Regions from separate parts of the Homo sapiens genome. Here region 2 is linked to region 1. The links come from fine-mapping of genetic effects on gene expression. Tissue or cell type: whole blood. Region 1 holds a variant in brackets; the other region holds the start of a gene. All regions are shown on one strand. Distances are between the middles of the regions.

The links. PIP is the estimated chance that this variant, and not a neighbour inherited with it, causes the effect.
Region 2: it holds the start of ZMAT3, and the variant in region 1 is fine-mapped to the expression of ZMAT3 in whole blood (INTERVAL, PIP above 0.99). The same link has a PIP of 0.9 or more in monocytes.

The regions. Positions count from the first base shown.
Region 1 is chr3:178,959,821-178,967,929 of GRCh38, forward strand. It overlaps LOC124906307 (a long non-coding RNA gene), which reads right to left. Exons shown (of 3, transcript XR_007096179.1): 2 at 5,625-5,676; 3 at 142-1,743. Among named protein-coding and RNA genes, the nearest start is that of KCNMB2-AS1, 100 kb to the left of the region's middle. The variant C/T (reference allele first, on the strand shown) is at 3,633.
Region 2 is chr3:179,067,042-179,075,150 of GRCh38, forward strand. It overlaps ZMAT3 (zinc finger matrin-type 3), which reads right to left and starts at 4,768. Exons shown (of 6, transcript NM_022470.4): 1 at 4,554-4,768; 2 at 442-768. The coding sequence starts at 711. RefSeq lists silencers at 4,495-4,644, 4,785-5,194.

The DNA of each region.
Region 1 (8,109 bases):
TTAGAATTTTTTTTCTAATTCTGTGAAGAATGATGATGGTATTCTGATGGGGGTTGCATTGAATTTGCACATTGCTTTTGGCAGTATGGTCATTTTCACAATATTGATTCTACCCATCCATGAGCATGGGATGTGAAGAACTCCCTTTTAAATGCTAATTTTATTCATGCAGTTGTTTTATGAATATAAAGATTTCAATTTTTCATGTGCAATACCCTTAAAGAGTGAAATCCTTTGAATTATTTTTTCAAAAACAGGCAGCACAGTTCTGATACAGAGGGAGTTTAGCATCTCAAAACACCTTATATTTTCCTTTTTACCAATTCATACATTTCCATTCCTGACGAGATTTATTGCTGTCAATTGCGGTTGCCTATAGCTTTCCACTGCTTTTGTTCCTGGAGGGTTAATTTCTAACACTTGGATTTCTTGGCATGCTTTCCTTTCTTTTTTTCCCCAAATACCCAAGCCCTATAACCCTTAATTTTGCTAGTTGATTTTGTGCCCAGTCACTATTTATAGATGGAGATAATCCCAGATTCGGACAGCTGGTCTGGCCATAGTTCTGAGATCTGTGATCCCATTTAGTTTCACCACACATGACCCTAGGCCACAAACATGTTGAGGTCATGTATATAAACAAATAAGTTTAACAAAAAGGAAACACGTGCAAAAATGTGGATCCTATACTATAGAGTTTGCATACCATGCTTTAAGGGAAAGGGAACTTACAATACAGCTAAGAATACCTAAGAATACATCTTTTTATGCAGGAATGAAGCTTCCCCTCTATGCAGATAGGCTCCTAGCATCCTGTGAGCAGACCACGCTCATTTCCTGTTGTATCCTTCACCTACAGCATTTTCCTTGAACCTCTCCACGAGCTTAAGTATACATGTTTCTCAAAAAAACAGTCTAAATTCTGCCTTTTCCCTGAGGGATGTACAGATGTGTGACTAAAAATGAAAAAGAAGACTACAAATCTTAAAAACAGTCATAAATAATTATCATAGATAACCATTGCTACCAAGTACCAGACTTACTCCTCCAAACAACCATATAAGCATGGATTGAGGATACCTGCTGTGTTATAGGTATCATTACCATTAAGGTAAACATCATATAATCTCAGCCCTCAGAGAATTTGTTCAGTCTGATAGAATCAAAGATAAGCAAAAATAATTAACACAGGGCCTAAGTGTAGAGATAAAGGGAAAGTTTGCCTAGAGAACAAAAGTTTTTTACAGACTGGATTCAGGAGAAGGCTCCTTCAAGGAAGCCCATTCTACAGATAAGAAAACTGAGGTTCACAGAGGTTAAATGTTTATGACCACAAACTAATAAGTTGTGGAGCCAGAAATCAGAAATAGGTCTCTTAGCCCAACATTCCCACAGGCTTTCACTTATGGGAAGTTGACCTAATTATCAACCTAATTAACACACCAAATGTGTTAATTTCCTAAGGCTGCAGAACAAGTTACCACAAATTTGGTGGCTTATAGCAACAGAAATGAATTCTCTCACAGTTGTGAGGACCAGAAGTCTGAAATCACAGTGTCAGCAGAGTTGGTTTCTTCTGGAGGTTTAGAGGGAGAATCTGTCCCACGCCTCTCTCCTAGCTTCTTGTGGGTGCCAGCAATTCTTGATGGTGATGCATCATTCCAGTCTCTGCTTCCATCTTCACATGGCCTTCAACTCCATGTTTATCCTCTTTGTGTGTCTTGAATCTCTCTTTCCGTTCTCCTATGAGGACAACAGTCATTGGATTTAGGGTGATTTAGAATGAACTTATCTCAAAAATCTTAATTACAACTGCAAAGACTCTATTTCCAAATAAGGTAACATTCACTGGTACCAGGGGTTAGGACCTGAACTTATCTTTGCAGGGGACAATATTCAACCCAGTATACCAAGCACATTGTTTACAAGCCTATTCCAGCTTTTACTTCCCCCTGGACCTTTCTGGCTGAAGCCCTCATGTTCAGCCAAGGATTTGTGGATAACTCCTGAGAATGTGCACAGCCTTGGGCAGCCTTCCAAATCATCATGGATAAGTAAGAGTTTACCAAGTCCCACTATGGCTATCTCTCTGTTAAATTTCTCACTGGTTTGCTGACTTCTTGCTGGTATTCTGCTTCTTACCAAAACCAGGATCATAATGTTGGGCTAGCTGCAACATTTGTTTGCCAACCATATGTGATAACAAACACCCGAGGGTGTGGGGTTTTCTGCTCCCCTCTCCAAACCAAGTCAGCCCCCGCCAGCAGCTAAATTCATCTTAGCTGAGTAGGAATTGCCCTATTCTGTCCAAGCTATCACATGATGGGACTGTGGGAGGTAGAAGGGAAGCAGCCCAGGTTAATACAGCACAGACTCTCATTGTTTGTACCCAGAGTTTAGTAGATCTTCTTAAATAAACACTAATCAATTTTCTGAATGTCCTTGGTCAATTCTGAGATTTCTCAAGTGGTTGATTTTTAGAGTCTTGTTTAGTGTTATTATTATTTTGAGAGGAAGAGGATTTGCTATATTCTTCACTCTACCATTCTGAAAGTCCCAATTTCTAGACACTAACTAAAAAAGAGCCATTGCCCCATTGCAACTTGCAGCTGGACTGTCATCAGTGAAAGGAGAGAGGCAGGGAAGTCTCCAGAAATGTTCATTCTACACAGGTAGGATGGGACTACATGGAGCAGAAATTTACAACAAATTAGTTTCTTCTTCCCTTTAAGCATATTTGTTGTCTACATTTTCTCAAAGTCTCATAGTAAAAGAGAAAAGTAGAATTGCCTAAACCTGTATTTTTACAGAATAAAGGAAGAGTTCAAAATTCTAGATAAAATAACCCATCCATCAAGATGCAAATTGCTACAATTGAAGATTACCCTGTACACACAGAGAAAAAGGCTCACCTATTATGATTGTCCATAGATTATATCAATTCATTTTAAATATTTAGGAAGTTCTTTTTTTACTTTATAAATCTATAAGCCCATTATTATCAGTTTCCAGACCTTTTACTTCTCTGACTTGAAAACCACTGCTACTTATAATACAATCCAGTTAAAGGATGATAAATGTAATCTTTCACTATTGACTTCAGGCTATTGTGGTACAAAATAACTCTATCTATTTTCCCATCTATTCTTTCACCTGCACATGCCCACGAACACAATTACAAGATAGATACCCTTTCTTCCAGAGGCTACAAACCAGTAACCTCTGGCTGAAAAATAGGCTTTATTTAGCTCTCATTGTACCTTTTAAAACACTGAGCTGACAAAATCTACATATTTTACACAAAAATATGAGTACCTGCCTTTTCTTGAGAAAGAATCTGGTGATAGTTCATAATGACTTTTCTTTTCAGACAGTGCAAGTAATTTCCAATATTTTACAGTCCCCCTGCCTCTATTGTCTTCCTAATGCTGACGATGAATGTCAGCTATCATCAATTATTTCATTTGTATTATTTTTCTTTTTGTGGTAGGAAAATATTTTTCTGTAAAAATGTCTTTATGTTAAATACATTTTGAATTAAAAATTGAAAGGAAAAGTAGAAACTAAGATTATCCTTTTGATTATCCTTCACCCAGTCTTCTGTACTCATTAACACTACTTGCCGGTACCCC[C/T]ATAGGCATTTGAGTTTGTTGTGTCTGTTTTCATCCTTAGATTAGAACCGAATAATCTCTTGATATAAAAATAATTCAAGACTGCAAGGTTCTTGCTTATCAGATTGGCCTAGTCCAGAGATGATCAAGAAGCTGGCCAAAGGTCAATTGATTACCTACTATAGTGGGGAGGTGCTCAGATTCTTCTAGAGTCAGATTATTCAAGTTCAAATCCTCACTTTGCCACTGTTAGGGTTCAAAAAGCGATGCCCCAAAATATGGTGGTTTGACATGCTGGCCGGGAGAAGCAGCCTTAAGTTCTCTCTAACCTTCTACCTCCAGCCCCCTCCCTCTGACCCCTGCCTCCTTAGGCCTCTGATCCTCTTTCCCAAAGAACTAAGAGGGACCCTCTTTGGAATTTCTTTATCTGACTAACAAATTTTCCTTCTTAAGACAATGCAATTTTCTTAAGACCTCTTACCTAGGAATCTCATCAAATAACCAGGAAAGATTAACCACTGGAGAAGAGACGGGGTCATGATTACAACCAGACAGACTTTTCATATATTATTTTGAGGACAGCTCTGAGAGACTACCTGGGGACTTTATCTTCATAATAAGACAACCTTTGTTCTTGTGAAGTTCTGCCCCTCTCCGTCCTGGAACCTTGTCATCCAGCTTCCAAAGAGAATCATTTACAAAATAATGTCTGCCTTCTATGTCCATACATCTCTCCTCTATGAAGACAACATTTAAAAATCAAACATCTGACTCCTCCTTAAGTCTCATATTTTGTGTGTAGCTTCTGTGTTTATGCATGTTGAATACATTTTATATGCCTTTTTCTTCTATTAATCTGCCTTTTATCAGCTCATTTTCAGCAAATCCTCAGTGGACAGAGATGAAGCGTTCCCTTCACTCCTACACTACCTACGGATTTTGTGATCTTTGGTAAATTACTTAATGTCTCTGAGATTCTATTGTTCTATCTATAAAAGGCAGATAATAATAGTATCCACATTATAGGGTCGTTTGAGAGTGAAATTAAGTGCCCAGAATAGTGCTTGTGTGATATAATAAGAAATATATTTGGTCTTTGTTCCTAGTTTTTGTTGCAGGGCTTCTGAAATTTTTGGAAGTCCTGAGTGATAGGAACGTCTTTCATTATTCATAATGATCCCCTTTATAATAACACGTGAGTTCATGCTAATGAGGTGAGTTAGATAACCCTAGATAACCTCAGGATGGGGCCAGTCCCCAGAAAGACCAAGTGATTAAGGGATTAGAGGGTTGGAACTTTCAGCCTTGTTGACCAACCTCCAGGAAATGGAGTGGGGTCTAGAGATTAAGCTCTCCAAAGCTGTCGAACAAGATTTGACAAGCTTCACAGTTGCTGAATGTGTAGAGGAGCTGGGAGGATGGGATGCCCCTCACGTCTCTACTCAGCCTGTGCATCTCTTCCATCTGGCTGTCCTTGAGTGCTGCCCTTTATAATAAATGGGTAATTGTAAGCAAAGTGTTTCCCTGAGTTCTGTGAGCCATTCTAGCAAATTACTGAACCTGAGAGGGGGTCATGGGAACCTCCAATTTATTGCTGGTCAGTCAGAAATATGGGGGGCCCAGACTTGAGATTGGCGTCTGAAATGAGAGCAGTCGTATGGGACTGAGCCTTCAACTTGTAAGGGCTATTCAGGTAGACAGTGTCAAAATCGAATTGAATTGTGGAAGACCCAGTTGATATCTGCTGGAGAGCTGCTTGAAATATGTGTAAAGACCCGTACACATCTGGCCACAAAAATATTCTGTGCTGAGAGTATAGTAGGACAGAACAGTCTGTTGGTTTGTGTGTTTCCCAGTCTTGTAAGTAGTAAACACTATATACATGTTTGCTATTATTATTATAAGAAAGCAACTGCCCCCTAGAAACACTCCTGTATGGTACAGTGTTAATGAAATTGACAACTGTCCTTTGTGAAAATAGTCTATCCCCAGAATACATATGTCATGCCATACCTTTATTGACTCCAATAGGGATGACACTGTGTCCAAGGGCTGAAGAAGAGACCTGGAGACGTGAACAAGACATAATGCTTATCAGGGGAACTTACATACAAAGACAACTTGGAAAAGAAACAACATGCATTTTGCTGCTTTTAAACTGTTCACTTAGAGAATAAAACTATCTACCAAAGTATAAAACACAAAACAACACAGAAGCCAGGTATGGTGGCATGTGCTTATAGTCTCAGCTATTCAGGAGGCTAAGGAGGGAGGCTCACTTCAAACCAAGAGTTCAAGGCTGCAGTGAGCGATGAACTCACCTGTGAATAGTCAGTGTACTCCAGCCTGGGCAACATAGTGAGACCCTCAACTCTTAAAAAAAAAAAGCAACTCATATGTGTGAGCAGAGCAATATAAGGATTCCATAAATGTATGAATCAGTGCAAATTTTCAACCAAGCATGACTCAGAGAAAAGAATATAGACTAAAAGAATGTAAAGGTAAAAGACCGGTCTATTACTTCTGAATTCTCATGCTCACTGCTCGTGTAACCCAGGACAAATCAGTGCTACCCTCTAGGACCAGTAATTAAAGTGATTAGGTTAGACTGAAAAGTTTCCTTTTGACTCTGTCTAAAACTTAATACAAAGAATATCAAAGACAATCAAAAGGTTTGTTGCTACATTCCATAACAGTTATGGTTTAAATTATTAGAAAAGTCCTAAGGTTTTTATTCTAATAGTATTTATTATGACAGAATATAGAGTAAAATCTCAATTAGCATAAGGTAGAATTAAACATGGAAACTTCCTGGAGTTTTAACCCAGGAAAGGGTAGATAATTTGATTAAAACTCCAAACTTCCTCTAGAAAAATACACAAACACATTTTGCATAAAATTTAAAAGATTCACTGATGCTTAGAAAGATTTAATTCTGAGAAAAACTGGGATTCAAACATGAGGAGAAGAAGAAAGGAGGAGTTACCCTAATTAACTGGTTACCTAGCCAATAGAAAAGAAGGATATCCAGGCGGCTCTTGGTTTAAAATCTAAATGCATTGTATTTGACAGCCACTTTATAATAGAATTAAACTTTTTATGGCTAGTCTCCAACTTAAACTCTGAGGTCTCTTGAAACTAGAAAGTGAATACAGCTTTTCTACTCATAGTTAAGCTTTTAAAAATATTAACAGAATCTTTTCATTCATTCATTAGGAAAAGGAAGTGGTTTTTCATTTTCATTCGCAAGCCAGTTTCCTGTTCACGCTTAAAAAAATAAATAAATAAATTTGGCATAAGGAATGATGAGGTGCCCTCTTCTGTTTCTAAACAGTTAATGCAGGGTTTTTGAATACTAGCAATTTGAAGGATTTTGCATTAAACTTTGAACACAGCAAGATTTTAAAATCTGAAAGAATTTCTGTTGACCTCCAGTGATTGGAATACCTCTTTATGCAGCAGAAGTTCCTCTTTGCCAATTAAAAAGTCCTCATTTCTCTCTGTGTAATAGCACACCCTGTTCCTGGCTGAGAAGAAAACAAAATTAACCTTGGGCTGGCGGCTGTGCTGCCTGATTTCCCTGGGCGAGTGAATGAGCTCACCAAATGTATAAATAATGTGCCCAAGTCTCCTTGTTGCTCAGTTTTTTCATATTCATTGAACAGAAGCCTTGAGCGCAATTCCAAACTGCTAATGTGTTAATACTTTCACCAGAGCTTGACTCCAGTTGCTGAAAAAACAAATATAAAACAGTAAACCCAGAAGGATGACCCAAACTTCCTGTTCTTTATTGGCAGAATTTTGCTGTGCAACTTACAAAGTTTGACAAATTATGCAAAGAAGCAAATGTAAAAGGACAGCTCTGAGATCCAAATTGAGGTGCTGTAGCACAGTTGCTTTAGTGGAACTACCACTGGGCTGCTGCCAGTCGCATCTGGGCAGGAAGGAAATGCAAATTAAAAGGAAAAATTAGGCCATTTTAGAGCAAAGTGAATTTTCAGCAAAAGCTCAGTGCTAACACTGAAAAATAAAGAAGGTATTATTCAGTTTTAAATCAGATTGATTAATTCTTTCTCTTGGTTATTCCAAAGTGCTTCTTTCGCTCTTCCCCGAGACACTGAGGTGTTTTGATAACGACTCATTATTTCTGTAGCACCAGTTCTTATCTTTGTTACTTCATTCAACCTCTTTTCATCTCATTCAACCACAGAAAGTGATTTTGACCTTTTACAAGACCCATAACCTTTACTGAAATCAAAGCTAATTGCTTTTCTTTTTAAATGTCTTTTAATCACCTTCAAAACTAAACAAATAACTTCAATCTAGAAAAATCAGACCTTGGAATCAGAATGAATGTTAGACATCCCTCTACTGCTTAGCAGTCCTGTGAACCTGAGATTCCTCAGCTATTAGGTCCAGAAATACCTGTCTCATTTATGTCACCAAATAGTTGTTAGGATAAAATGAGATTACATATGGAAATATACTTTAATAGCAT
Region 2 (8,109 bases), 110 kb after region 1:
CACCTCGAAATGATGCAAATTATATTAGCTTCTAAACAATTTTACACTGAATTGAGTTCGGTACATCATGGGTTTTTTTGTTTGTCTGAGACAAAGTCTCGCTCTGTCACCCAGGCTGGTAAATAGTGGTTTAAATACTTGTTCTTCTTAAGACTACAGGTTCAGATGCCAGCATAGATCATTTACATTTGCCTACAAAGACTGGTAAGCTATCGCATGCCACACAGCTTAGTGTAACAGGTTGAGATCCAGTCTACAAAAAGTGATACTTATTTTTAAAGTAAAAACATAAGGCTTTTAATCAAACAAATTCATAGTTAGTTGTTCTCTAAGCCATCTTGGTATTCCAGGCACAGTCATATCTGGAGAGACAACTGCTAAATAGCCAGAGCCCTGAAATGTTCACCCTACTCAATGCCTGGTTTTCTTTTCTCCCTTTACCTGATAATGAGCCTGGGCTTGCTGTGCAGAGTTCAAGGTGACATTGCAGAGTTTGCAGTACAGGGGCTTACATAGCTCCTCCAGGGCACAGTCTTGCTCCCCTCCCTTCGATAACTCTTCTTCCCCTGCAAGAGGCAAGGAAGCCTCCTGCCCAAAAGGCTTCTGTGGTGGAAGCTGCAAGGTTCCTGTAGACCTGGTGGCCACTGACATAGGAGGCGAGGGTGAGGGCTGCTTAGGTGGAGGAAGCACGGCGTGTTGCAAGAGGATCATTGGGTAGGGAAGCCTGGGGCATAATCCAGTGGGTGATGAGAAGCAAGGTCTTCAAATCTGAATCAACAGCAAAAAAACAGAAAAAAAAACTCACTTGAAAATCAGACTTCAGCAAGATAACATGTAAATGACAACATAATCTGACCCTTTCTTCTACTTCTCCAAACCCATCTTTGGGACTTCTTTCCTTTGGCCTCATTTAGCAGACTTCCCCTGCCTGTTAATTCATGTTAACACGGTGCTCTTCCACTGAGAATGGCTTTATAGATTTGGCTTTATTTTGCTTGGCACAGTTCCAACTGCTATCCCTTTGGCCCGTGAACATTAACAGCATTGCATCCACGGCTAAATCTAAAAGTCACATGGCTGAAATGGACATCAAATGTCACCTAGTCCAGACCCCTTCCCTCAGGCACACTTACACTTAAACACTCTTAATGATAATCATGCACAGACAAAAACACCACGAGCTGTCCAGGTGTGGTGGCTCACGCCTGTAATCCCAGCATTTTGGGAGGCCAAGGTGGGCAGATCACCTGAGGTCAGGAGTTCGAGACCAGCCTGTTCAAGACAACATGGTGAAACCCCGTCTCTACTAAAAATACAAAAATTAGCCAGGTGTGGTGGCGAGTGCCTGTAATCCCAGCTACTCAGGAGGCTGAGGCAGGAGAATCGCTTGAACCGGGGAGGCAGAGGTGGTCGTGAGCCGAGATCGTGCCATTGCACTCCAGCCTGGGTGACAGAGCAAGACTGTGACTCAAAAAAAAAAAAGACCACCAGCTAAAAATCTTAGCAAACATATCTTCCAACCAACCAATATCAAAAAGAGTGTATAAAAGAATATCATCTTGCAGAATTCTTAAAGCACTTATAGAACTAGCTAAAATTTCAGGGAACTCTAGGAGTAGCCTAAAGTATGACAGAAATAAATAAAATATGTTCCTTCTGATCAACTAGCAATATTTAAGTAGTTGAGCAAATGTATAGCAGAGGTGGCAAACAGCCTGTGGGCCACATACAGCCACAGATGTGCTGTTTGGAATATACAGTTTTGTTTTCATTTTTTTAAGTCGAATTAGTTGTTAGCATTTAAAAATCAAGAGATTCATGGCTTCTCTTGAAAAAGGATGATCTGGCATCACTTGGCCCACATTCCTATATGGGACGCAATTAGCTAGTTAGTGCTCAGAGGCACTGTGCCCTCTAGCGAGGCCTGCCTTCTCTGGGACACCTCAGTCCCCACTCAGCTGCTGCCTGTACTTGTTACTTGCCTGTTCTCTGTGAGCTCTTGAGTTTACAGCCCTGCCTCATACAGCCTTAGATTATATTCATCAGCCCCTGTAAAACCCAAATTTTTCCTCCTTCTCTAGGTAAATTACCTACACAAAATAAGGTATCAAGGAAATGTCCAATGGAGTAATGGATCACACCACCATAAGCCACAGTATAATTCCAGTTCCTCAATCTTGAGGCTATTTCCCTCCTCCTTCTTAACAAATAACTGATAGTCTCTATTATAATTCCCTCAGAAAAGACCCAAAATGTTCCTCTCCCTCTTCAATCTTTATCCATAATGTCTCCTGCCTCCCCCCCAGATGGCGCCGTCTAACCCTGAGTGTCTCAAAATGAACCACAGTACACCCTTTGAGTTCCCAAGATTCTAATTAACCCAAATTAGAATCCTTATTTCAAAATCCACAATTCCCTCCACTCTCTCAATACAGTATTATTAAAACCTCTTCTCTTGGTCAATAGAATATGGCTATTTTAAGCTGCTGAAATTTTCCATCTGCAATGGAAATGTGTACATTATGGCAATAATAGAATTACTAAAATGAATCAAGTAAATTTTGAAAAGTTAAAGTCTATTTTACCATATTTGATAACTACACAGCACCTGAAAATCAAGTAACAACTTTCAGACGAAATTTGGGGTGGGGAGGCAACAAAGGAAATCAGCGTGATGGGAAAATAATGTAGTTAAGGACAAAGTGCATAAGTATTAGTCATAGAATTTAACAATACTTCTCATTAATCACAAAATTTAGAAAAATGATAATATTATTTAATTTTTAAGCAGAAGTGTACTGCCCATATCTCTGGGAACATAAAAGAAAAGCAATATAGAGTTTTAACATTTAAAAAGTCAGGTTCTCTGTAATGGTATTATTTCTCTTAATTGAATCAAGCAAAGATAGTCCAGAAAGCAAAGACAGATATGGTCATTTTAGAAAACGGAACTAAGTAGACAAAGAACAGCTTTTAAAAAGTTTAACTACCTAATAATAATAATTCATAATGTTGAAAAGCTACTGATGTCAAATTGCCACAAACATTCTGCTAGTTCATTAGTGAAAAGGTGGGGGGGGGTGTCAAAACCTCTGGATAAAGGAAATCAGCAATATAAACAGAAAATCAAATGCTACCAATTGCCTAGGCATGTCTGGACTTGTTTTATGAAAGCTCACTTTCACTTGAGGAAATTCTAGCATGTGTCTCCCCCAGTGTTATCTACAGGTTTCCCTCAAAATAAAGATCCTTCTCAAAGAACAGAGGCACAAAAGGCCTCCTACCAGAGGTGACAGTTACCTGATTTAAAGAAAAAATTCTTGCCAAACACAGATTTACCCATTATCACATTTGATCTTTACAATTTTTAAAGAGTAGCTTGATATCCCAAATTTATTTCTTGTTATATTTAACAATCAACACAATGTCGACTCCTCAAAAAAATCTATGTATGACAATTGCATCAAATATTAGTACATTTGCAAACAAAAATTAGTATAAAATATAAATCTTAAAATGAATAAAACCAAGTCTTCAGTGAATGCATGAATGATGGAATACAGAGACCCAAAACATGCAACTCAGATCTGTTCAACTGTTGCATTGGTTTAAAAGGGACTAATTTGAAGACTGGCATAAATATTCTTCAAATCTTAAAAACCAGTCACTTTGATGCTTGCGATGGCATAAATGAAGGATTTATGCTGGTTAATGTCCTGGTTTGGAAAGGAGCTAAGACGACATTAAAGAAAATCAAAGCTTCACAAGGTACCCTGTTTAAAGAAAATTAATTGTCATAGCATACTTAGTTTTAATGATTGGACTGGGGCCTACTCTTCACATACTGTGTTAAAGACAATCTCTTGTCTCATTTGGAGAAATCTACAGAGGAAAGAGAATAGAATAAAGGAACAGGTTAGGAGCACCTCAGCAAACTAGGTAAGTCTGTAATTGGGAATTCTGGAAATGAGGGAAAGGCAGCGAGCATTACTCAGAGGTCATCAGAACGCAGCAAGAAGGAATGAGAGGGAGAAAAGTTAAAAAAAATAATAATAATAATCACTTGAGGCAAGGTGTATCCTATAAAGAAGGCTCAAAAGAACGCAGAAAACTGGGGAAGAGGCCTTGGTGAATTGGCGAATGTTTTTCAGTCTCCGCTGTGACGGTTCCTAATCCTAGAGAACTGTTTACAGATTTGAATCAAAGCTACAGACAGTTCAGCGTCGCCCACATCCACCTTACATTCCTAAGATGTGCATGCATACACACGAACCCACACACGCACCTCAACCCGGTATGGATGCCATCACGAAGGATGGAATCCCCCGACTCCCACGGGGCGGGGGCAACTGAGAGGGCCAAGGCAGCTGCACGCACAGATGATCCACCTGGTCCACGTGAAATGCCTGAAACAAGCAAACTGATAAATAGAAGCAGCGCAAGCCCTGTCACGTGGAGGGCAGATGGAAAGAGCATCGGAAAGGAACCGCTAGTCCCCGGCGCTCCAGGGGCTCGTCCTGAAAGCTCCGCGGCTCCCAATCGCCCGCACTTACCGGAACCCCCGGGACGCGCCGGCAGTCTCCGCGCCGCGTCCGCCCGGGACGCCCGCGACGCCCGCCCTGCGCGCCCGGCTCGGCCCAGCTCGACCCAGCCTCTTCTCGGAGCAACTTTCTCCGCCGGCCGCCGCCGAGCCCCCTCCGCAGCCGAAGGCTGACTGTCAAAAGTCAGTCCAACCCGACCCACAGGGAAACAGCTGCAGGAAGTGACTGCGGAACCGGGAGGCGGTGGAGGAGGAGACTGAGGGCGCCGGCTCGGCGTCGCCACTGCGCATGTGCTTGGCGGAGCAGGCCCGGCAGCGGTGGCAGCGGTAGCAGTGGCGGCTCCCGCATCCCCGGCGGGCGGCGCGTGGGTCAGGTGCCCTGGCCGCGAGCGCAGGGGCGCGGGGTTAGGCCGGCGTGGGGAACAAAGGCACGAGTGAGAGGCGGGAGGGTCCCGCCGCCAATCTCAGCAGACAGCCCCGAAGAGCAGTTCAGCAGATGCCCTGGAAAGTTAATCCTTGGTAGAAGCCTGGGCAGAGCTTTTGCAACTTTCATCTCCAGTCATTGGGATCCAAACATTGTTCATTCTGTTCCTCCCTTAGCCTGCTGGTTGGCGGTTAAGGCGGCTGAGTGGATCCTTTAAACTGCTGCAACAGAACCTTTAAACTGCTGCTCTCCCCACTTCCGCCCCAGGATGGAGGAAGAAGAGCGTGGCTGCCTGCCCAGTATCGGCCTCCCTCACACAAAACGCCCCCACCCACCCACACACACACCTTCCCTCCCCTACACGAAAGTGAGCAGGAGATAGAGGAGACTTTCTCCTGACCCCCAGAGGCTCACCTGCAAGACAGGAAGGACCAGGAAAAGAGTGGCCAACGCTAGGATGTCACATCCTTCATAACCAACCTGGACATCTTCAATGTTAACACTGAGTGATGAGCTGAGGAAATTCCGGCTCTAAACTTATAGCGTAAATTAACTCGTATGAAGATCTGCTGGGGTATTATTTTTGTGTGTGGCAAACGATAACAAATATACTACTTTAAGAGTACAGGCCGGGCGCGGTGGCTCACGCCTGTAATCCCAACACTTTGGGAGGCCGAGGCGGGTGGATCACGGGGTCAGGAGATCGAGACCATCCTGGCTAACACGGTGAAACCCAATCTCTACTAAAAATACAAAAATATTAGCCAGGCGTGGTGGTGGGCGCCTGTAGTCCCAGCTACTCGGGAGGCTGAGGCAGGAGAATGGCGTGAACCCGGGAGGCGGAGCTTGCAGTGAGCCGAGATCGCGCCGCTGCACTCCAGCCTGGGTGACAGAGCGAGACTCCGTCTCAAAAAAAAAAAAAAAAAAAGTACAGTTCAGTGGCATTAAGTACATTTGCATTATTGTGTGGTTATTTTTTAAAACACGAATTAAAATGCCAAGGAGATCTAAGTATAGTAAGATGTGCCCTATTAGTAGGGAAACAACTGCAGGAAATCAAGGCTGTTTCTTTGGCTGAAAAATGCACCAATCCAATACCAACAACAACAAACCATAAAAGACTTCATAAGTACAATGAATATGAAGTACAAACATATACACACAGTGTACACCAGCCATTTGGGGAGAGTAATCCATCACCTGAATTGTTTTTCCAGCTGTATAGGTACATTTACTTTATGTGTCACTATTTTAAAGGGCTATATTGTTTCTAAAATAATAAATGCTGCTAAAATCCACTCTCCAGCCCCTTTTCTATATGGTCTTTAGCCAGTCTTAGAACTTCACAGTCCACACTCCTTATCTAGGACCACAAGTAGGCCTTGCGGAGCCTTTCCGATCTGACCTTCCACCAGTCTCCCCTCATCATTTCACTCACACCCCCATCCATGCCCCTTCATTTCCTGCCTCTGTAATTTAGCTCTGTCTGCATCTTGAATACAAAATGCTTTCTCTCCCCTCCCCTTGAATTGTCAAATCCTACCTGTCCTTCCAGGCCTCTTCTTTCATGAGGTCCCACAGCACTTTTCTCCGCACACCTTGATGACACACTATTTGTTGTCCCACATTATAATTACTTAAGAGATATTTCCTCTGCCCTGTAAATACCTTGAGTCCAGGAAGGATAAATGTCTTGGAGTTTTCAAGTTTTATGTTTGATAGTTTGATGTGTTCTTGTCCATCAGGATGAAAATCTGAACAATTCCATGTTCTCTGCTCACATACTCTTCTCAGACAGCTAGGGCATTTCCTTCCCTGCCTCGGGGAGAAAGAAAAGGCAAATCTGATGCTTGTGTAATAGATATTTGAAGCTCATGGCAGTGACAGTAGTCTCATAAGTCAGAGTTTGTAGTTTAGAATTGGCTGGACTTCATGAGTTTCAGCACATGAGGTGAAAGGAAAAAAAGCCACAAACAATATATTCATCACTTTTGCGGTTGAAAAAAAAAAAAATGGCTGATGGCCACAAAGGTTTATTTCTTATTTGTATTACATGCTGGGTCAGCTGAGGTTCTGCTCCATGGGTCTCCTCAATCCAGTGCCCAAGCTGAAGAAGCTGCCCCTATGTAGAACTTGGCAATTCTCAAGGGAGATGGGAAGAGCCAGAAAGCTGTTAGAAACTTGTGAAGCCTCTTAAAGCTGCTTCTCTAATGTCTCATGACATGTCTACTCAAATCCCATTGGCCAAGGTCTTTCATATGGCCAAACCCCAAGTAAGTGGAGAAGTCTACTTCTTTCATAGGCAAATCACATGGCAATGGGCATGGATTGTAATTTTTTTGGAGTGGGGGTTGTGTGGTTAATTGTAAACAATAATGCAATCTGCCACAAAGATGGGGGAACCAATTTTCTCTCCCCAGAGATATTGGTGTATGTCCCAAAGAAAGGCCTATAAATCCCCACCCACCCACCAGCCACACACACCCAGTCGTTGGGATTCCTTTGAAAGAAACTGTGGAGCTAGAAATAATACAATTCCCACATGTGTGAAGATCTAGAGATTGGGGGCATCTGAGCTCTATTCCCAGTGGGGATCAGAAAAGCAATCAAGGTCTAGGGTTTTGCCTCAATAAGTCAAAAGAGAGTAGGATGTTAGCCTGAACTGTTTCAGCCAGAGGAATGCCCCTAAACTTTTTTTTTTTTTTTTTTTAGTATTTATGGCATTAGAGACTATTCAAGGGAGCTGACAGCTGTAGGGGGCTGATGAGCCTACAGGTCGGAAAGGGGAAGGATAGAACTGAATGAACAGAGCACTGATCTGATAGCAGAGAAAAAATAGACATCGCCTATTGAGGTCAAAGCCAAGGCGTGTTTGCACTGATGTCTACTTCCTCTTGCCACCTGCCTCCCCACTTCACCCAACCCCACCCCAAATTTTAGGGTTATCCTCAGAAAAATAAGGGGAAGCAGATCATTTTGAAGTGAATAGATATTAGCCAGAAATGACTTGGAGACAGGAGAGATTTGTGGGTAATAGAAATACATGTAGAATTGACTAATTTGTTTCTCTCTTGAAAAAGAACAGGATCTCAACATTGAGACTAATTTTAATTACTTTTTTAAAAGCAACGTTTTTATACACTGA